2 separate regions of the Homo sapiens genome follow, and region 2 is linked to region 1. Evidence: fine-mapped expression QTL. A gene starts in region 1. The other region holds a variant in brackets. All regions are shown on one strand. Distances are from middle to middle. Region 1 holds the start of ARHGEF6 (Rac/Cdc42 guanine nucleotide exchange factor 6). Region 2 overlaps ARHGEF6 (Rac/Cdc42 guanine nucleotide exchange factor 6).

Evidence for each region. PIP is the estimated chance that this variant, and not a neighbour inherited with it, causes the effect. A credible set is the group of variants that fine-mapping cannot tell apart.
Region 2: its variant is the best candidate, but not a certain one, in a credible set for the expression of ARHGEF6 in tibial nerve (GTEx, PIP 0.50).

What each region holds. Positions count from the first base shown.
Region 1 is chrX:136,776,759-136,786,793 of GRCh38, reverse strand. ARHGEF6 (Rac/Cdc42 guanine nucleotide exchange factor 6) reads left to right here and starts at 5,862. Exons shown (of 22, transcript NM_004840.3): 1 at 5,862-6,076; 2 at 7,297-7,380. The coding sequence starts at 5,912. RefSeq lists an enhancer at 7,207-7,426.
Region 2 is chrX:136,713,227-136,723,261 of GRCh38, reverse strand. It overlaps ARHGEF6 (Rac/Cdc42 guanine nucleotide exchange factor 6), which reads left to right. Exons shown (of 22, transcript NM_004840.3): 7 at 9,892-9,986. Among named protein-coding and RNA genes, the nearest start is that of ARHGEF6, 63 kb to the left of the region's middle. The variant A/G (reference allele first, on the strand shown) is at 4,758.

The DNA of each region.
Region 1 (10,035 bases):
TAATCCCCACATATCATGGGAGGGACCTGGTGGGAGGTAACTGAATCATGGGGTCGGTTACTCCCGTGCTGTGTTCTCGTGATAGTGAGTGAGTTCTCAAGAGATCTGATGGTTTTATAAGGGGCTTTTCACCCTTTTGTTTGGCACTTCTCCTTGCTGCCACCATATGAAGAAGGACATGTTCGCTTCCCCTTCTGCCACGATTGTCAGTTTCCTGAGGCCTCCCCAACCATGCTGAACTGTGAGGCAATTAAACCTTTCCTTTATAAGTTACTCAGTGTTGGATATGTCTTTATTAGCAGCATGAGAATGGATTAATACACCTTTGAAGCACAAAAATTTTAATTTTAGTGAAGACCAATTTATCAATTTTTTTCCTTCTGTTGCTTGTTTTGTTGGTGTTATATCTAAGAAACCATTGCCTAAGCCAAGTTTACATAAATAGTCATTCTGAACTATGAGGTGACAAGCTAATTATGGCAGGAGAGTAGAATCCTGGGTCTCTGATGATTACGAAGCTGCATATTAGGCTTGGAAACCCAAATTCTACATTTATTTTACGCAACAGTGAGATAAAGTATTTTATTTTTAAAAATCAAGACCCTCTGTTCTTTAAAATACACATAAAATGAAAAACAAAGATATAAGAAGATATTTGCAAACACACATAAATGACATAAATTTCGTATCTATAATATATAACAAACTTTCACAAACCAATAACAAAAAGACAAACAACCCAATAGAAAAATGGGCAGTAGGAAGGAGTATCTCACAGAAGAGGAAACATATATGGCCAATAAGCATATTAAATGCTCAACCTCATTAGTAATCATAGAAATATAAATTTCATACCCATGAAATAACAAAATTTTAAGTCTGAAATATCAAGTCTTACCTATGACATGGAGCAATGGAAAATCATACCCTGCTTGTGGGAATGTAAATTTGTATAATCATTTTAGAAAAAAAAAGATTTGCAGATACCTATGAGGTCAAGGAATTGTAGTGGGAGTAACAAGCAAGCTGGAAAGATGGTAGGTTGTTTAGAAAATATAATGTTGGGTCGGGCACAGTGGCTCATGCCTGTGATCCCAGCACTTTGGGAGGCTGAGTCGGGTGGATCACAAAGTCAGGAGTTCGAGACCAGCTTGACCAACACGGTGAAACCCCGTCTCTACCAAAAAGGCAAAAAAAATTGGCCAGGCCTGGTGGTGCGCGCCTGTGGTCCCAGCTGCTCAGGAGGCTGGGGCAGGAGAATCGCTTGAACCTGGGAGGTGGAGGTTGCAGTGAGCCAAGATGGCGCCACTGCACTCCAGCCTGGGTGACAGAGCGAGACTCTGTCTCGAAAAAAAAAAAAAAAAAAAAAACTAATGTTGGAATTCATGACTTAGGAGACAGAGAAATTTGTGTGATAAAAAAGTACAAGGTGTAACCTTCCAAGAGGTTAGCTAAAGTGGAGAGGAAGTATACATTTAAGATAACAAGGTGTATCAGTTGGTGTCCAATCAGAACATAGACACTACATAGTATTTTTTTTTTTTTCTTGAGATGGAGTCTGGCTCTTGTCGCCCAGGCTGGAGTGCAATGGCACGATCTCAGCTCACTGCAAACTCTGACTCCCAGGTTCAAGCGATTCTCCTGCCTCAGCCTCCAGAGTAGCTGGGATTACAGATGCCCGCCACCATGCCTGGCTAATTTTTGTATTTTTATTAGAGACTGGGTTTCACCATGTTGGCCAGACTGGTCTCAAACTCCTGACCTCAGGTGATTTGCCCACCTTGGCCTCCCAAAGTACTGGGATTACAGGTGTGAACCACCGTGCCCAGCCTACTACATAGTAATTTTAACAAGAAGAGTTTAACATAAAGAATTAACAATAACAGGGGATTGGAGTGTTGAAGAATTGGTTAGTAATAAATAAAGGAAACTCTAAAAAGTATGGGATAGCAGATATAAATAGCAGACAATATAAAAATAATATGTAATGGCCGATACCTCTAGAGCTGTGATAACCCTCCTCTCCACCCACGGTCGAGATCCAGGCCTTATTGGAGAAGTTGCTCTGGTGCTGAGTTGGTGGAACTTGTTGGATGTACATTCTCTGGAACTTGCTGAAATATACCCCTCTACGGTGCTGGTTCACATGGAAGGTGTCTGTCTCATCAGAGATTCTTTGCTGCCTAAACACTCAAGGGTAGTGCCTGGGGAGGTTGCTACCTACTGTTTGTTGGGAAAACCAGTGCTGCAGAAGGTGGGCAATAGGAAAGCTGGGAGCTCAGCAGGAGCTTGTGGAGTGAGCGCACAGAAAACAGGAAGTAAAACCCCTTCTTCCTGCAATGTCTCTCCACCACTGCCTACTGATAAAACTTTGTATCATGCCAGCTGGCAAAGTCAGAAATATTTCAAGGTCCCAGGTCCATTTCACAGAATAGGCATAAAGGGGAAATGAGAGGTAATAAATTGATTACAGGTTGAGAAGTTCAAGGAACTGAGAGGTCTTGATGTTGGATTGTTGTTCTTGTGGATATTGAAATGACCCAAGTGTTGGCAGAAATTAGAGTGGTGTAGAAGGTTAGAGACCAATAAACTCATTTCTCTAAGTGTGACCTTGGTCTATCTGCATCAGAATCAAGTGGGATACTTTGATAACACAAATTCCTTTTTCCCACTGCAGATCTTCTGAACTGGAGTATCTGGGAAGAGAGCTCCCAAATATTCTTTTTTAGTAAGTGCCTTAGTAGATTTGAAATGAAAGAGAATCGGTTAGTAACATTTTAAACACACAAAACTAAATAGTAAAACAGGTACCAGTGTACCCAGCATTCAGTCTTAACAAATGTTCACATTTGCCTTATTTCCTGAAGATCTTTTGATTTTTCATGAAATGTTACCTATTTTAGCTTAAGTTCCACTCTCACCTTCCTTTCTCCTTTATGCCTCACAGGAGATGATCATATGAACATTGTTTTTTGTCAATTCCTGCTTTAGGCAATAGAGAGCCTTTGAGGGTTTTTGAACAGGGGTATTAACACTAGAGGTGTTTTTGGAAAATCAACCCAAATGTGCCCTGTTAGAGAGTTCATTAGGATGAGAGGATGGAGGTGGAAAGCCCTTGAAGAGGCAGGTTCAGTGGCCCAGAGGGTGTGGTACTGAGGATCTGAGGTAGGGTGAGAGATCTTTGCTTTTTTTTCTCATGCTCTTGTGTGAAGCCTGCTCTTTGTGTTGCTGTGACCCCCAGTCTTTGAATTCCCCCTCTTCCCCTATTCCCTCAGTTCATCAGCTCCTTTCTAGCTTCATTTGAGTCCCTAACCAGCCTGGGTTTCATGGGTACCCATTTCACCTATATGCTTGCCACTGCCCTGGAATTCCTTGCTTTGTTGACATTTTACCACACCAACTGTAACTTCCAATCTTTATACAAATAGAACTGGTTCTTTTGCCTTGAGGCAGTGGCCTTGCCATTCTGATATACTTTATTACTCATAGTAATATTTGCTATAGTGAGTGTCCAAAATGAGGCAGAGTTTTATCCAGATGACCTTGGTGAACTCAAGACTGTTTTGGAGGAGGCTGGGTTCACAAAACTTACTCAGGCTTTGTTCTTCATCAGAAGATGTAAGTGATACCTCAATAATACTGCCAGATTTTGTTTGTCTGTAGAGTAAAATTTTGATGAGCAGTTGTGAAAACTGTTCAGATGACATATAAAAATGTGTTTAAGTTCGTCAGATTTGGGAATTTTATTTATCAACAAATGTATTCTGTTTTTATTTCCATTACATAGATTTGGCCATGGGTCAACGTCAATGAAAACTTTTGATTGATTATACTTATTTTGCTTAAGTCACAAGTACATCAAGCAAACCTTGTTATAGAACTATGGACAGACACAATAACATGAATGAGTATGAAAATGATGATGTTGAGTTAAGAAGCCAGAAAAAAGATAGTACCATACTGTGTACTTCCATTTATATAAGATTCTTGAAAATGCAAACTAATCTATAGACACTGAAAATAGATTGGTGGTTGCCTGGCATTTGGAGGCAAAGAGGAAAGAAAGAATTGAAAGGGCACGAGGACAATTTTGGGGGTGATGGAAAGGCTTATCTGGATTGCATTTGTGTGATTGTATCAAAGATGTATGTATATGTCAAAATTCATTAAATCATATATATGCAGTTCCTTATGTGTCAATTACAGCTTAATAAAATGGTAAAAATCATTAACAAGAAAAAATGTTTGTTTTAAGCCATTTAAACCAACCAACAAACAAAAAATCCTTGCTATAATCAGTTACTGTCTATATCAGGGACACCATCTGAATACATTCATTTATTCATTCAGCATTTTTTAACATCTACTGTGTATACCTGGCAGTCTGCTGGTAACACAGTGTTAAATAAAAAAAAACAAGACCCCGAGTTTAGGAAGTTTACATTCTTGTGGAGGAGTCAGATCATCAGATCAACAAGTGATAATAGTAAAGTGTGACAAGTGTCCTGACAGAGCAAGAAAGGGCAGCTTTGAAAATGTTTAGTAGGGTTATCTAAGCTGATTCTTTGGTAGTAGATGCCTGAAGCTGTGTTGAAAAGAATTCTGAGGCTTAGTAGGAAAGAGCTATACATGATCTGATGTCTCCCATGCACGAGGAGAGGTAATCATGGTAAGTGCCACACATTTGCCAACATAGGGTTATACTATTAAAGTTGGCCTTATCATAAATTTCCCAATAGTATGCCTATTTCAAGTGGTTCTGAAAATGTTTGAGAATGATGAAGATCTCTTGTTATAGACAGTTTTTTTTTCAGAGCAGTATTTTAAGTGCAAAGTGTTTTTTTGTTGTTGTTGTTGTTGGGAAAATAAGAATCTTCCATATTGTAGTGTAGACAGAGGACAAGTGCTCTTTTGTTCTCAAACATTCTATTTTTTCAAGTGTATTTTACCCACTTATGTGACTGAGTCTGAGCCTTTGCTAAGGGTACTGCAGCTGGATTATGTAGTGGAACCAGGTCCAGAAAAAGAATTGCTAAAGAATGCAAGTAAACAGGATGTCAGATGTTATCCTTAGCCTATTTCCCTAAACATAGCTTTTTGGCTGCAAAGTAAAATGCCATTCTTCTAGCTTCTGCTTATACACAGTGATGGCTGACAGCAGGCATAATCTTCGTTTGCTTGGCACGTTGTCACCATGCAACTCAACGTGTTTTGCAAGGAATGATCGTGACACACCATCTCTGGGAGATACTATGAGGACATCCGGCTATTTCTTGGAAGAATTTTCTGTCTACCTTCTTTGAGCCCTGTTGTGCCAGCACATCTCCCCATGAGGCTCAGATCTGTCTGACCTAAGAGCCAGTTGGCATCGTCCTCCTAACAGAAGCCAGATTTTCACTGGGGCTAGACTATTTATTGACAGTGTTTTCCCAGACTGGCCCATGAGTGTCTCATTTCCAAGGTCCCCTGAAGTGCTGGCTCACCTCTGTTTCCCAAAGCACTTGCTTGCTTGTCTCTCCTCCCTCCCCAGCATCCTTTTCACTTTCTTCCCTTATAACTTCTTGCACTCTGTGTGCGTGTGTGTGTATGCGTGTGTGCATGTGCGTTTCTTCTTTTTTTTTATCCTAACGAATTTGTTTTGCAGGTTTTGAAAAGGAAAAACCAGCGTTATCCAGGATTGTTAAATTAATTCTTATCTGTTTCCACATCTTGGACCGTGATCTCTGTGGTTTTAAAATCCCATATTTTGAGTGGGTTCCGCTGTTGTTTAAGAAAAGTTGCTTTAAACCTTTGCTCTGCAAGCACCCGAAGAGAACTCATAAAAAGGAAGACAACAGCAGATGCAATCGCGGATGTGGCTTAGTCCTTGCAGCTGCCCCAGAGTGCTGTTTGGAGTGTACCGTCCTCAGTAATGAATCCAGAAGAACAAATCGTGACATGGCTTATATCTTTGGGAGTTTTAGAGTCCCCTAAAAAGACCATCTGTGATCCGGAGGAGTTTTTAAAGTCCTCGCTGAAAAATGGGGTAGTTCTGTGCAAACTGATCAACAGACTCATGCCTGGCTCTGTGGAAAAGGTAAGGGAAATTTGCAGTCTCTTTGGGATTGCTTATCACCAGAGAGCAGCAATCATGTAACTCTTGAGATTTTTCTATTTCCCAGGCCATGGGAATCTCCTACTTTAATATTTTTCTAAGAGTTAGACATTCTTTCTTACTGTTTTTGTAGTTTGAAAATGTAAGAAAATGAAACGTTATTCTTTAGTAATTGGCCCCCAAATTGTAGTATAGGGAAAACCTGTGACACCACTGGCAACAAGGGACAAGGAGAACACTCATATCACAAGCTTGCTCTATCATGGAGATGCATGTTACATCTCCTTGTGTACCGAGGACATGTTTTGAACTTGGGGTACTTATGAGTCTGTGGAAAAATAGAATGATTTATAACAGATCTTGGTGGTGTTTATTGGCAGTTTGATTAAAATCAGTGTAGATTTCCTTTTAGAAAAATCCATTGAAGGAGAGACTATATAGCAACTAGGAAAAAAATAATTCAAAATGTCACATAAAGTTTGTAAAAGCAATAGAAACCAGATATATGTTTCGAATGCAATGTGCGTTCAAAGTGAAACTAACTTTACTCTCTTTAAAACAATTCAAGATTTTTAATAGCTGGAAATCCACGATCACGAGAATAGATAATTTCTAAAGTAGGCACTTTAAGTAAGCTTAAAGGTACAATTTTACATTTACTTTCTTAAGGTCATCATGGACTGTGAGCATAGCACTTTTGCCTTCATGAGCCAGTTTGTATTTTTATTGAGCAAATAAATTTACTTATAATTTCTTAAACTTGAGAAAGAGTGATTAAATAGTGATAAAATGTAAAGAAGTGTGGTCAAATGTAGAGGGGAAATAGAATTTTATTAAATTATCAGGGGGAAGGAGGAGAGAGAGGTACCAGGGATTGCTTCCTTTCTTGAAAGCAAGAACTAAGCTCAAAAAACTGTCTTGGTCTCCCTAATTTGCCATCAGCACACTGGAACAGAAGGCATGAGAGAAAGCTTGTAAGTAGACATGGCTTGCCACTAAAGGTTTGGTGACATTTGAAACAAAGATCGACCGTTTAGATTTTTGCATCACTTCCTTCAGTGGTTATTTCTCTTCCTGGATTGACAGCAGTGTTGCCCCACACCTTAAGAGGCCTGCTTTCTCTAGTTATCAGCAAATGATGAGTATACTTTGCTTGGCATGGGATGACAATCTCCAAGTGACATTTCACTGTGTTCCTCTAGTTTTGTCTGGATCCCCAAACTGAAGCTGACTGCATCAACAACATCAATGACTTCCTGAAAGGATGTGCAACCCTCCAAGTGGAAGTAAGCCTACCCCGGGTGCCTTCCCTGTTGTCATCGTTTTTTTGCTCTGCTAATCAAGATTGGTAGTAAGAGTACTTGTTTATTTTCACTGTCATTGGCCACTGAGTTAAACAGAGGTAGCAGACTGGTGGTCCCCAGTAATGGATTGCTAGTCTGTCTTTTCCAGAAACCAGTTCCAAGCAAAACAAAACAAAATAAAAACTCACACAATAATGCCTTTTATATACAGCATCCAAGCCCTGTAAACAGGCTTCCAGTGACAGAGCTTGTGTGGGTGTGTTCTCCTACTAAGGGGAACCAAAAGTGGGCCACTGACTGTTGGAGAGGGTCACTGTAATCCTCCCAAGTTGAGAAAAGAGGAAAGGCCATTGTTACTCCTTCCCATTAACACTTTAGAACAGAGGCCTTGAAAAGCTGAGAGAACTTGGCTTTGAGGTAGAAATTGTATAGTAAATTTTGTGGCATTATTTTATATTATATGGATCCCTACAGTGTGTATAGGAAGTGTTACTGAAAGGGAGGTGATACTTCCACACGAGCATCAAGTTGCTTAACTTCTCTGTGCTTCAGTATTTTTATCTGTAAAACGGACATGCTAATAGCCAACTCATGGGATTGCTTTAAGAATCAAATAAGGCCGGGCATGATGGCTCATGCCTTTAATCCTAGGCCAAGGCAGAAGGATTGCTATAGCCCAGGAGTTCGAGACCAGCCTGGACAGTATGGTGAAATGGTGACTCTACAAAAAATACAAAAATTAGGCAGGCGTGGTGGCTTGTGCCTGTAGTCCCAGCTACTCGGGAGGCTGAGGTGGGAGGATCGCTTGAACCCAAGAGGTGGTGGAGGTTGCAGTGAGCTGTGATTGCACCACTGCACTCCAGCCTGAATGACAGAAAGAGACCTTGTCTCGAAAAAAAAAAAAAGAATCAAATAAGATACTGCATAATAATTTAGGGCCAAGAGCTCCAACCTTGTAAGATCTATGAGATAATTTATGTAGAGTCCTTAGCATAGGGCCTGGGACAGAAGAAGTACTCTATATTAATAGACTAGTATTAGTCATATTATCCGTGGACAAATAGTTGTGGTTTAAGCATGGACTGTGGTGCTAAACTTTTTGGGTTCAAATCTCAGTTCTCTCTTACTAGCAGCTTTGTGACCTTGGGCATGTTACTTAACTATGACTCTAGGCCTCAGTCTTCCTACCTACAAAATGGGAATAATAGTGGCACCGAATTCATAGGACTCGTGTGACCTTTTTAAAAAATATTATTTCAATAGTTTGGGAGGAACAGGTAGGTGGTGTTTGGTTACATGGATAAGTTATTCAGTGGTGATTTCTGAGATTTTGGTGCATCCATCACTTGAGCAGTGTACACTGTACCCAATGTAGAGTCTTTTATCCCTCACCCTACTCCCACCCTTCCCCCTGAGTCCCCAGAGCCCATTACATCATTCCTATGCCTTTGCATCCTCATAGCTTAGCTCCCCCTTATAAGTGAGAACATATGATGTTTGGTTTTCCATTCCTGAGTTACTTCCCTTAGAATAATGGTCTCCACCTCCACCCAGGTTGTCGTGAATGCCATTATTTTGTTCCTTCTTATGGCTGAGTAGTATTCCATGGTGTGTGTGTGTGTGTGTGTGTGTGTATGTATACATATTATATATATGTATATTACATTTTCTTTATCCACTCTTTGGCTGATGGGCATTTAGGCTGGGTCCATAACTTTGCAATTGCAAATTGTGCTACTATAAATATGTGTGTGCAAGTGTCCTTTTCATATAGTGACTTCTTTTCCTCTGGGTAGATACTCAGTAGTAGGATTACTGGATCAAATGGTAGTTCTACTTTTACTTCTTTAAGGAATCTCCATACTTAAGGTTTTCCATAGTGGTTGTACTAGTTTACATTCCCACCAGCAGTGTAGAAGTGTTTCCTTTTCACCACATTCATGCCAACATCTAATATTTTTTGTTTTTTTTTTAATTGTGGCCATTTCTGCAGGAGTGAGGTGATATCTCATTGTGGTTTGATTTGCATTTCCAGTGCTTAGTGATGTTGAGCATTTTTTCATATGTTTCTTGGCCATTTGTATATGTTCTTTGAGAATTGTCTATTCATGTCCTTAGCCCACTTTTTGATGGGATTATTTGTTTTTTGTTTTTGTTTTGTTTTGTTTTTTGAGACTGAGTCTCACTCTGTTGCCCAAGCTGGAATGCAGTGGTGTGATCTTGGCTCACTGCAACCTCTACCTCCCTGGTTCCAGCGATTCTCCTGCCTCAGCCTCCTGAGTAGCTGGGAATACAGGCGCCCGCCACCATGCCTGGCTAATTTTTGTGTTGTTAGTAGAGACAGGGTTTCACTATGTTGGCCAGGCTGGTCTCAAACTCCTGACCTCAGGTGATCCGCCCGCCTGGGTCTCCCAAAGTGCTGGGATTACAGGCGTGAGCCACCGCACCCGGCCTATTTGTTTATTTTTATTTCTACTTTATTTATTTATTTATTTATTTATTTATTTATTTATTTATCTATTTATTTATTTTTGCTGATTTGTTTGAGTTCCTTGTCGATTCTGGATATTAGACCTTTGTCAGATGCATAGTTTGGGAATATTTTCTCCCACATTGTGAGTTGTCTGTTTACTCTGC
Region 2 (10,035 bases), 64 kb after region 1:
TTAGTGTATTCACAGAGTTGCACAATGATCGCCACTATCTCATCTAATTTCACAACATTGTTATCACCCCACCAAAAAACCTTCTATCCATTAGCAGTCACTTCCCATTTCCCATTCCCTCCAGCCCTTGGCAACCACTAATCTACTTTCTGTCTGTATGGATTTTGCCTATTCTGGAAGTTTTACATACATGGAATTCTATAATGTGTGATATTTTGTGTTTGGTTTCTTTCACTTAGCATAATATTTTCAAGGTTCATCCATGTTGCAGAATGTATCAGTACTTCTTTCTTTTTATAGCTAAGTAATATTCCATTGTATGGTTAGACCAGCTTTTATTTATCTATTTATCAGTTGATGGACTTTGGGTTGCTGCCACTTTTTGGTTATTATTACAAATGCTGCTGTGAACATTCATGTGCAAGTTTTTGTGTGGACATATGTTTTCACTTCTTTAGGAGCAGAATTGCTGGGTCACATGGTAATTCTATGTTTGACTTTCTGAGGAATGGCCAAACTGTTTATCACAGTAGCAGTACCATTTTACATTCTTACCAGCAATTGTAAGAGTTTCAGTTTCTCTACATCCTCACCAACACTTGTTATTGTCTGCTTTTTTTTCTTTGTAATATAACCACCCTATTGAGTATCAAGTAGTATCTAATTGTAGTTTTGATTAGCATTTTCCTAATAGTTAATGATGTTGGGTATGCTTATTGGCCATTTGTATATCTTCTTTGGAGAAATTTCTATTCAAATTCTTTGCCAACTTTAATTGATTATTTTTGTTGTTGAGTTGTAATAGTTCTATATATATTGTGGATACTAGACTCTTATCAGATATATGATTTGCAAATATTTCTTCCATTCTATGAGTTGTCTTTTCACTTTCTTGATAATGTCATTTAACACACAAAAGTTTTTAATTTTGATGAATTCCAATTTACTTATTTTTGTTTTGTTTTGCTTTTTGTGTCACCCAAGAATCCATTGCCAAATTGAAAGTCATGAAGATTTCCTCCTCTGTTTACTTTAAGACTTTTGTAGATTTAACTCTGAAATCCATTTTGAGTTAGTTTTTGTATATGGTATGAGGTAGGGGTGTAAATTCTTTCTTTTGCATGTGAATATCCAGTTTTCTCAGCACCATTTGTTGAAAAAAAAGTTCTCTCCCCACTGAATGGTCTTTTTTTTTAATTGACAGATAAAATTATATGTATTAATTGTGTACAACATGATGTTCTGTCATGTTTAGTCATTGTGGAATGACTAAAGCTAGCTAATTAACACACATATTACCTCACAGAGTTATCATTTTTATGGTAAGAACAATTAACATTCACTCTCTAGGCATTTTTTAAGAGTACAATATATTGTTATTTACTATAGTCACAATGTTGCACAAGAGCTCTCTTGAACTTATTCCTCCTAACAGATGTTTCATATCCCTTGATCAACATCATCCCAACCAGCTCCCCCAACTTCCCCAGCCCCTTGTAACCACCATTCTATTATCTAGTTCTATGAGATCAACTTTTTAAGATTACACATATGATGAGATCATGTGGTATCTTTCTTACTATGCCTGACTTATTTCACTTAACATAATGTCTTCTAGGTTCATCCATGTTGTTGCAAATGGCAGGATTTTCATCTTTTTAATGACTGAATAGTATTCCATTGTGTTTTGTTTTGTTTTGAGACAGGGTCTTGCTCTGTCACTCAGACTGGAGTGCAGTGGTGTGATTCTGGCTCACTGCAACCTCTGCCCCCTGGACTCAAACAATCCTTCCACCTCAGCCTCCCAAGTAGCTGGGGCTACAGGGGTGCACCACCACACCTGGCTAATTTTTTAGTTTTTTGTAGAGACAGGGTCTCACCATGTTGCCGAGGCTGGTCTCAAACTCTTGAGCTCAAGCAATCTGCTCTCCCCAGCCTCCCAAAGTGCTGGGATTATAGGCATGAGCCACCATGCCCAGCCTCCATTGTGTTTTTATACCATATTTTCTCTGTCCATGCATCCGCTGATTTCATATTTTGGCTATCATGAATAATGCTGAAATGAACATGGGAGTGCAGATATCTCTTCAACATACTGGTTTTATTTTTATTTTTGGAATTTGAATCTGTCAATATCCACAAAATAACTTACTGAGATTTTGATTGGAATTATGTTGAATCTATAGATCAAGTTGGAAATAACTGACATCTTGATAATATTGAGTCTTTCTACCCATGAATATAGGATATCTCCCCATTTATTTAGTTCTTTGATTTCTTTTACCAGAGTTTTGTAGTTTTATTTGTATAGATCTTGTACATATTTTCTTAGATTTATACCTAAGTATTTCATTTTTAGAGGTGCTAATCTAAATATTATTTTTTTGTTTCAGATTTTGTTTATTGCTGATATAAAGGAAAATGATTGACATTTGTGTATTGACTTTGCATCTTGCAACCATGTTATAATCACTCATTAGCTCCAGAAATTTTTTTGATTTATTCAGATTTTCTACATATACAATCATGTCATCTACAAATAAAGACGGTTTTATTTCTTCCTTCCCAATGTGTATACCTTTTATTTTTTTCTTATTGCATTAGCTAGGACATTCAATATGATGTTGAAAAGGAGTGGTGTGAGGGAACACTCTTGTTTTGTTCCTAATCTTAGTAGGAAAGCATCTGGCTTCTTACCATTAAGTATGATGTTAGATGTCGGGGTTTTTTGTTAGCTTTTTTTTCCCTTTTTTTTTCGTAGCTGTTCTTTATCAAGTTGAGAAACTATTCCTAGTTTTCTGAGAATTAAAAAAAAATCATGAATGGATGTTGTATATTGTCAAATGCCTTTTCTGCATCTGTTGATACGATCATGTGATTTTCCTTCTCTAGCCTGTTGATGTGATAGATTACATTAGTGATTTTTTGGAATGTTGAACTAGTCTTGCATACTTTGTTAAATCACACTTGGCTGTGTTGTAGCATTCTTTTTATCTATTGCTGGATTTTATTTGCTAATATTTTGTTGATGATTTTTGTAACTATGTTCATTAGAGATATTGGTTTGTAGTTTTCTTGTAATGTCTTTGGTTTGGGTATTGGGATAATTCTGGCTTCATAAAATGAGTTAGGAAGTATGTATTCTCTCTGCTTCTGTGTTTTGGAAGAGATTGTAAAGAATTGATATAATTTCTTCCTTAAATGTTTAGTAGAATTTACCAGTGAACCTATCTGGGCTTAATGCTTTCTGTTTTGGAACGATGTTAATTACCAATTCATTTTCTTTACTAGATGTAGGCCTATTCAGATTATCTATTTCTTCTCTTGTGAGTGTTGGCAGATTGTATCTTTAAAAAGCTGGTCCATTTAATCTAGGTTATCAAATTTGTAGGCAGAGTTATTAATAATATTCCTTTAACATTATTTTAATGTCCATGGGATCGCTAGTGATATCCTGCCATTTCATTTCTGATACTAACAGTTTGTATCTTCTCTCTTTTTTTCAATGAAGTTCATCAATTTTGTTGATCTTTTCAAAGAGCCACCTTTTGGTTTTAACTTCCTCTACTGATTTTCTGTTTTCAATCTCATTGATTTCTGCCCTAATTTTTATTATTTCTTTTCTTCTGTGTGCTTTAGATTTAGTTTGCTCTTCTTTTTGTAGTTTCCTAGGGTGGAAGTTTAGATTATTTATTTTAGATCTTTCTTCTTTCCTAATATATGCATTCAGTGCTATAAATTTCCCTACAAGCACTGCTTTCACTGCATTCCGCACATTTTAATGTTCTTCTTTCATTTCCATTTAGTTCAAAATATTTTAAAATTTCTCTTGAAATATCTTTTTAGAAAATAAATGTATTTTGAGATGTGTTGTTTAATCTCCAAGTATTTTTCTGTTATTGATTTCTAGTTTGATTACATTGTCGTCTGAGATCATAGATTGCATGATTTCTATTCTTTTAAATTTGCTAAGGTGGGTTTTATGGATCATAATGTGGTCTGTCTTGAGGAATGTTTCATGTAGGCTTGAGGAGAATATGTAATCTGCTGTTGTTGGATAAAGTAGTCTATAGATGCCAACTCTATCCAGTTGCTTGATGGTACTATTGAGTTCTAGTATGTCCTTACTGATTTTCTGCTTGTTGGATCTCTCCATTTCTGATAGAGGGGTATTGAAGTCTCAACTACAATAAATTTATCTATTTCTACTTGAAGTTCTAGCAGTTTTTGCCTCACTTTTTTTTTTTTTTTTTTTTTACCAAGTATTAAATCACAGGAGGAATTTACTCCAAGAATGCCAGTCAACATACTGGACAATGTCTTTAACTATAGTTTACAACAATAGTTTACAACTATGATGGCCTTTTATATAGCTACTTCTAATGTCAGTTCTCACTGAAATGCATAATATTAAAATATAACTCAGCCAAAGAAAATGTTTCTTTTGTTCATTTCTTTTGTTCCTTTGTTCATTTCTTGGAATAGCAATTAGCAAGTACCAATGTGTGTAAAATGCCTAAAAAATACACAATGCCATTGTCAAATATGTTTGAAAAACACAATATCATATTGGCCCTGCTTAGAGATTCAAAATATATTTATCATACTAAAAGTTCTAAAAAGCTATGCATAAAGAAATTTGTATAAATTATTTAACAGTTTTTCATAATTGTTATTGTCATTCTTTGGGAAGTTAGATATATCAATATACTTTCAGATTTATCAATATACTTTATTCACCTGGTCTTTGAATGAGA[A/G]TGGGTTAAATAAGCAAATTTATTGTCATTTGCACTGACAAGGAACTAGAGTGTTAATTTTTTTTTATTATTGATTGAAGGGAGAACGCTTCCACTGCAATTTTGATGGAAGAGTTTTCATTTGATTATAAAAGTTGTGCCTCATGTAGTTTGATTCTGTTTTTAGGCACATACATATTAAGGACTGTTATGTCTTGTTGGAGAACTGACCTCTTTATTATTATGTAATGCCTCTTTTATTCCTGATAATTTTTCGTGCTCTAATGTTTGCTCTGTCTAAAATTAACATAGCCACTCCAGCTTTCTTTTGATTAGTATGAACATGATATCTCCTTTTTCATCCCTTTACTTTTAATTTATAAGTGTCTTTATATTTAAATTGAATTTCTTATTAACAGCATATGGTTGGGTCTTATTTTTTGATTCACTCTGAAAATGTCTGTCTTTTCATTGGTACATTTAGACCACTGACATTTAAAGTGATTATTGATATAGGTGGATTAATGCCTACCATACTTGTTACTGTTTTCTATTTGTTGCCCTTTTCGTTGTTCGCTTTTTGTCTTCCACATTTTTTTGCTTTTTGTTTTAATTGAGCATTTTATATGATTCCATTTCTCTTTTTTCACTTATCAGTTATATTTCTTTAAGAAAAACATTTTTAGTGGTTGCTCTATGCCTTGATAGCTAGTCCCAGTTCACTTTCATATAATACTATACAAAGATACATACTATATTCGCAGGTAGTGCAAGTACCTTATAATAACATAGTATTCCTAATTATTACCTCCCATCCCTTGTATGATCGCTGTCACTCATTTTACTTACACATAAATACACATTAGTATATACACACACATAATCAAATACATTGCTGCTATTATTATTTTGAATAAACTGTTATCTATTAGGTCAATTAAAAATAAGAAAAAAGTTTTTATTTTATCTTTACTTATCCCTTCTCTAATATTCTTTCCTTCTTCATGTAGATTCAGATTTCTGACCTATATTGTTTTTCTTCTCTGTGAAGAACTTCTTTTAACATTTCTTGCAAGGCAGGTCTAATGGTGACAGTTTCCCTCAGTTTTTGTTTGTCTGAAAAAGTCTTGATATGTCTTTCACTTTTGAAGGATAATTTCACAAGATACAGAACTCAAGGTTAGTGGGTTTTTCTCTCAACACTTTAAATATTTCACTCAACTCTCCTCTTGCTTGCATTGTTTCTGAGGAGAGGTCAGATGTAACTTTTATTTGAACTTCTGTATAGATAAACTGTTTGTTTCCCATGGCTTCTTTCAATACTTTTTTCTTTATTTTTGATTTTCTGGAGTTTGAATATCACATGATTAGAATTTTCTTTTGCATTTATCCTACTTGGTCTCTGAGCTTCCTGGATCTGTGATTTGGTGTCTGACTAATTTTGAGTAAATTCTCAACCACTATTGTTTCAAATATTTCTTCTATTATTTTCTCTTTCCTCTCCTGATATTTCCACATTACATGAATGTTGCACCTTTTGTAGTTGTCCCACAGTTCTTTCATATTCTCTTCTATTTTTACCCCCAGTCTTTTTCCTCTTTGCTTTTTGGTTGTAGCAGTTTCTATTGACATATTCTCAAGCTCAAAGATTCTTTCCTCAGCCATGCCCAGATCACTATTGAGTCCATCATGTGCAGGCATTCTTCATTTCTGTTACAGTGTTTTTAATCTCTAGCATTGCTTTTTGATTCTTTCTTAGAATGTCTGTTTCTCTGCTTATAATATCCATCTATTCTTGCACGTTGTCTACTTTTTCTGTTAGAGTCCTTAGTATATTAATCACAGTTACTTAAAAACACTGGTCTGATAATTCTAACATTCCTGTGTTACCTGACTTAAGTTCTGATGCTTGCTTTGTCTCTTCATACTGTATTTTTTGCCTTTTAATATGCCTTGTAAATTGTTGTTGGAAGCCTGACATGATGTACTGGGTAAAGGAACTGTGGTAAATAATCCTTTAGTAATGTGGTGGTAAGGTGTAGAAGGAGGGGAAACATTCTATGTTTCCAGATTAGGTCTCAGTTTTTAATGAGCTTGTGTCCCTGGACTGTGAACTTCACCCGTGCTTCCTAGTTCTCCCGCTTAGGTGGGACAGGATGGCTAGAAAGGGCTGGAGTTGGGTTATCTTCCTTCCCCCATGTGGAAGGCTAGAGCTGGCTGGAGTTGCTTATTGACCTTCCCCCATAACAGTTAGCATCTGATAAAAATTCAATAGGTTATGCTCAGGCCGGGCGCAGTGGCTCACGCCTGTAATCCCAGCACTTTGGGAGGCCAAGGCAGGCGGATCACCTGAGGTCAGGAGCTCGAAACCAGCTTGACCAACATGGTGAAACCCCCATCTCTACTAAAAATACAAAATTAGCTGGGCGTGATGGCGCATGCCTGTAATCCCAGCTACTAGGGAGGCTGAGGCAGGAGAATGGCTTGAACCCAGGAGGTGGAGGTTGTAGTGAGCCGAGATTGTGCCATTGCACTCCAGCTTGGGCAACAAAAGCGAAACTGCGTCTCAAAAAACAAAAACAGAAACAAACAAACAAAGCAAACAAACAAACAAAAAATAGGTTATGCTCTGGTAAAATAGTTTCTCCTGAGGGCAGACCTTGTTAAGAAGAATAGAGTGCTCTGGCATATTCAAAAAGGCAACTTTTTCCCTCCCTCTGCCTGAAGCATGAGGGTATTTTCCTCTAATCTTCACTGAGAGAAACTGGAGCTTAAACTCACAAAAGTGTGAGTGTGCTGTCCTAATATTGGGCCCCTGGAGTTCCTAACTCTCAGACTTGCCTGTACAGAGCCCCCAGAAGTTTGTCAATTACAGTGTAGGTTTTTCTGCCCTAGTGCTGGTTCCTGTGGAGGCTTCTGCTTGTGGACTTCTGCTCTGGTAATTTGTGATTCTCTTTATCTGCCTGTTTCTCCAATTTTTGGAGTAGCAGTTTTCCCTGTGACCTCTCTTTTCTGACAGATTTAAGAGAAAACGATGGTTTATTTCAGTTTGTTTAGCTATTTCCTTCCTGTTAGGATGGAGTAATGACTTCTAAGCTCCTTACATGTCAGACTGAAAAATGAAAGTCTTTTTTTTCTTTTTTAAAATAGGCATTTATAAGTATATAGTTTTCTTTAAGCACTGTTTAACTGCACCCCATGAGTTTTTGTATGTTGTGTTTTCATTTTCATTCATCTCAAAGTAGTTTCTAATTTCCATTCTCGCGCTTGGACTTTCTATAGAGGGGAATATTTCTATTCCATTACTGGGTTAATTTCCGAGAACATCAATACCTCCAGAACCCTGCATTTACACTTTTAGAGGGTAGTTTCTGAGGAATAGAGGAACTGAAAGTAGACATGAGTGGCTGGGTATAGGGGTTACAATTTAAGCCCGAGCTTTTGAAGCCATCCTGTGTTCTTCTAAGCCAGTGATTCTCAACTGGGGGCAATATTGCCTTTCAGGTGACATTTGGCAATGTCATGGCAATGATATGGGCATTCCATCACAACAAAGACTTATCTGGTTTGAAAGGTTAATAATGTTGCTATTGAGAAACCCTTTTTTAACCCTTTAAATTGGTAGGTCTGTTTCCCACTTACCCAGCACCTATCTGTACAGTGTGTCACTACATCTTCATAATGGTCCCCCAGGTAGGTGCAATATCATAATCTGAGATGATGTAAGCAAAGTTTTAAACTGAAGCAACCTCTCAGTCAGCAGCAGAGTCAGGACTACCACCCTGCACTCCAGTGGTTTCCCAGAGAACCCACGGTTACCAGGATCTCCACTTGTTTTGACCATTCCACCTTTCAAAAGCAGATCATCATGCATTGTCTTGTGAGTATATGGCTGGCATATTGGTAGGCTAATACACTTCTCCTAGTTAAGGACACTTCACTCTGTCTTGTAACTCTCTGTTTAATGTCTCTGCAAATACAGTATAAACTCCCTGTGGGCAGCACGGCAGTTGGCAGAATAGGCACTCAGTCGATTTTGTTGAATGAATTAGAATATATGAAAGAAAATATACCAGAATGTTAACTGGGTTGTCCCTAAGAGCTTAAATGAAGGTTTTTAAAATTATTATTATACTTTAAGTTCTAGGGTACATGTGCACAATGTGCAGGCTCGTTCCATAGGTATACATGTGCCATGCTGGCCCACTGCACCCATCAACCCGTCATTTACATTAGGTATTAAATGAAGGTTTTACCTGTCACTAGAAGAGGCTTGGAAATGGGTTGTGACATGACCCTAGAACTGGTAGGGGAAGAGAAATTGTGATCCCCCATATTGGTTGTTTTGCCTATAGGATTCTAATTACATTAATAATAATAATGATAATTTTTATTTCTCTTGTTAAATTCCTCACACTTCAGCCTACTTTGTTCTTTGAATTGTTTATGGTAGCACCTTTTGCCTTTAAGAAAAGACTAGTTTTAACTCTGCTTAAAAATTCACTGTATCCTCAGATTTTGTTCCCCAAAGGTCTTATCACAAACATAACTTAAACAAAAATCTCTTGTGATGTTTGTTATCACAGTGATCCTTAAATTATACTGACATTAAGTCTCTATGTCTAAGGTAGCTGGCCTCAATTTTCTCCTCCATAAAAGAGGAATAATGATTCTTTGTTAACTAACTGAGAACTTCCTGAGGATAAAATCATTTACAGCACATGAAAACATTTTAAACAGTACTGTGGGGTTTGATGTGGTCTCACATCTGTAATCCCAGCACTTTGGAAGGCTGAAGCAAGAGGATTGCTCCAGACCAGGAGTTTGAGACCACCCTGGGCAACATAGAGAGATCCTGTCTCTACAAGAAATAAATAACCAAGCAGTACTGTGTAAATCGCAAGGCCCCTTCAGTTATGGGCAACTGAAAAATTGTATTCATATGAATTGTGCAATATAACCAGTTGTCATGCAATAATTAAAGTAGTTTGCTAGATTGAAAGAAAATGCATTCAGATTTTGTGTTCCTTGCTTGCAATGGTAGCCTGAGTAAATAGGACCTTTTTTCTTCCTAGTAATTTGGTTAAAAGATCAAAGCTACATTTTGCCTTAGACTATCGTGATGATTATAATACATTGACTTTTTTTTCCATAGGTGTTACAGAACATCCTGGACACTGAAAAAGAATATGCTAAAGAACTTCAGTCTCTTCTTGTTACTTACTTAAGACCCCTGCAGTCCAATAACAAGTAAGATGTTTATTTTAAATCCCTCACTAAGTAAAGCAACATAATGTCA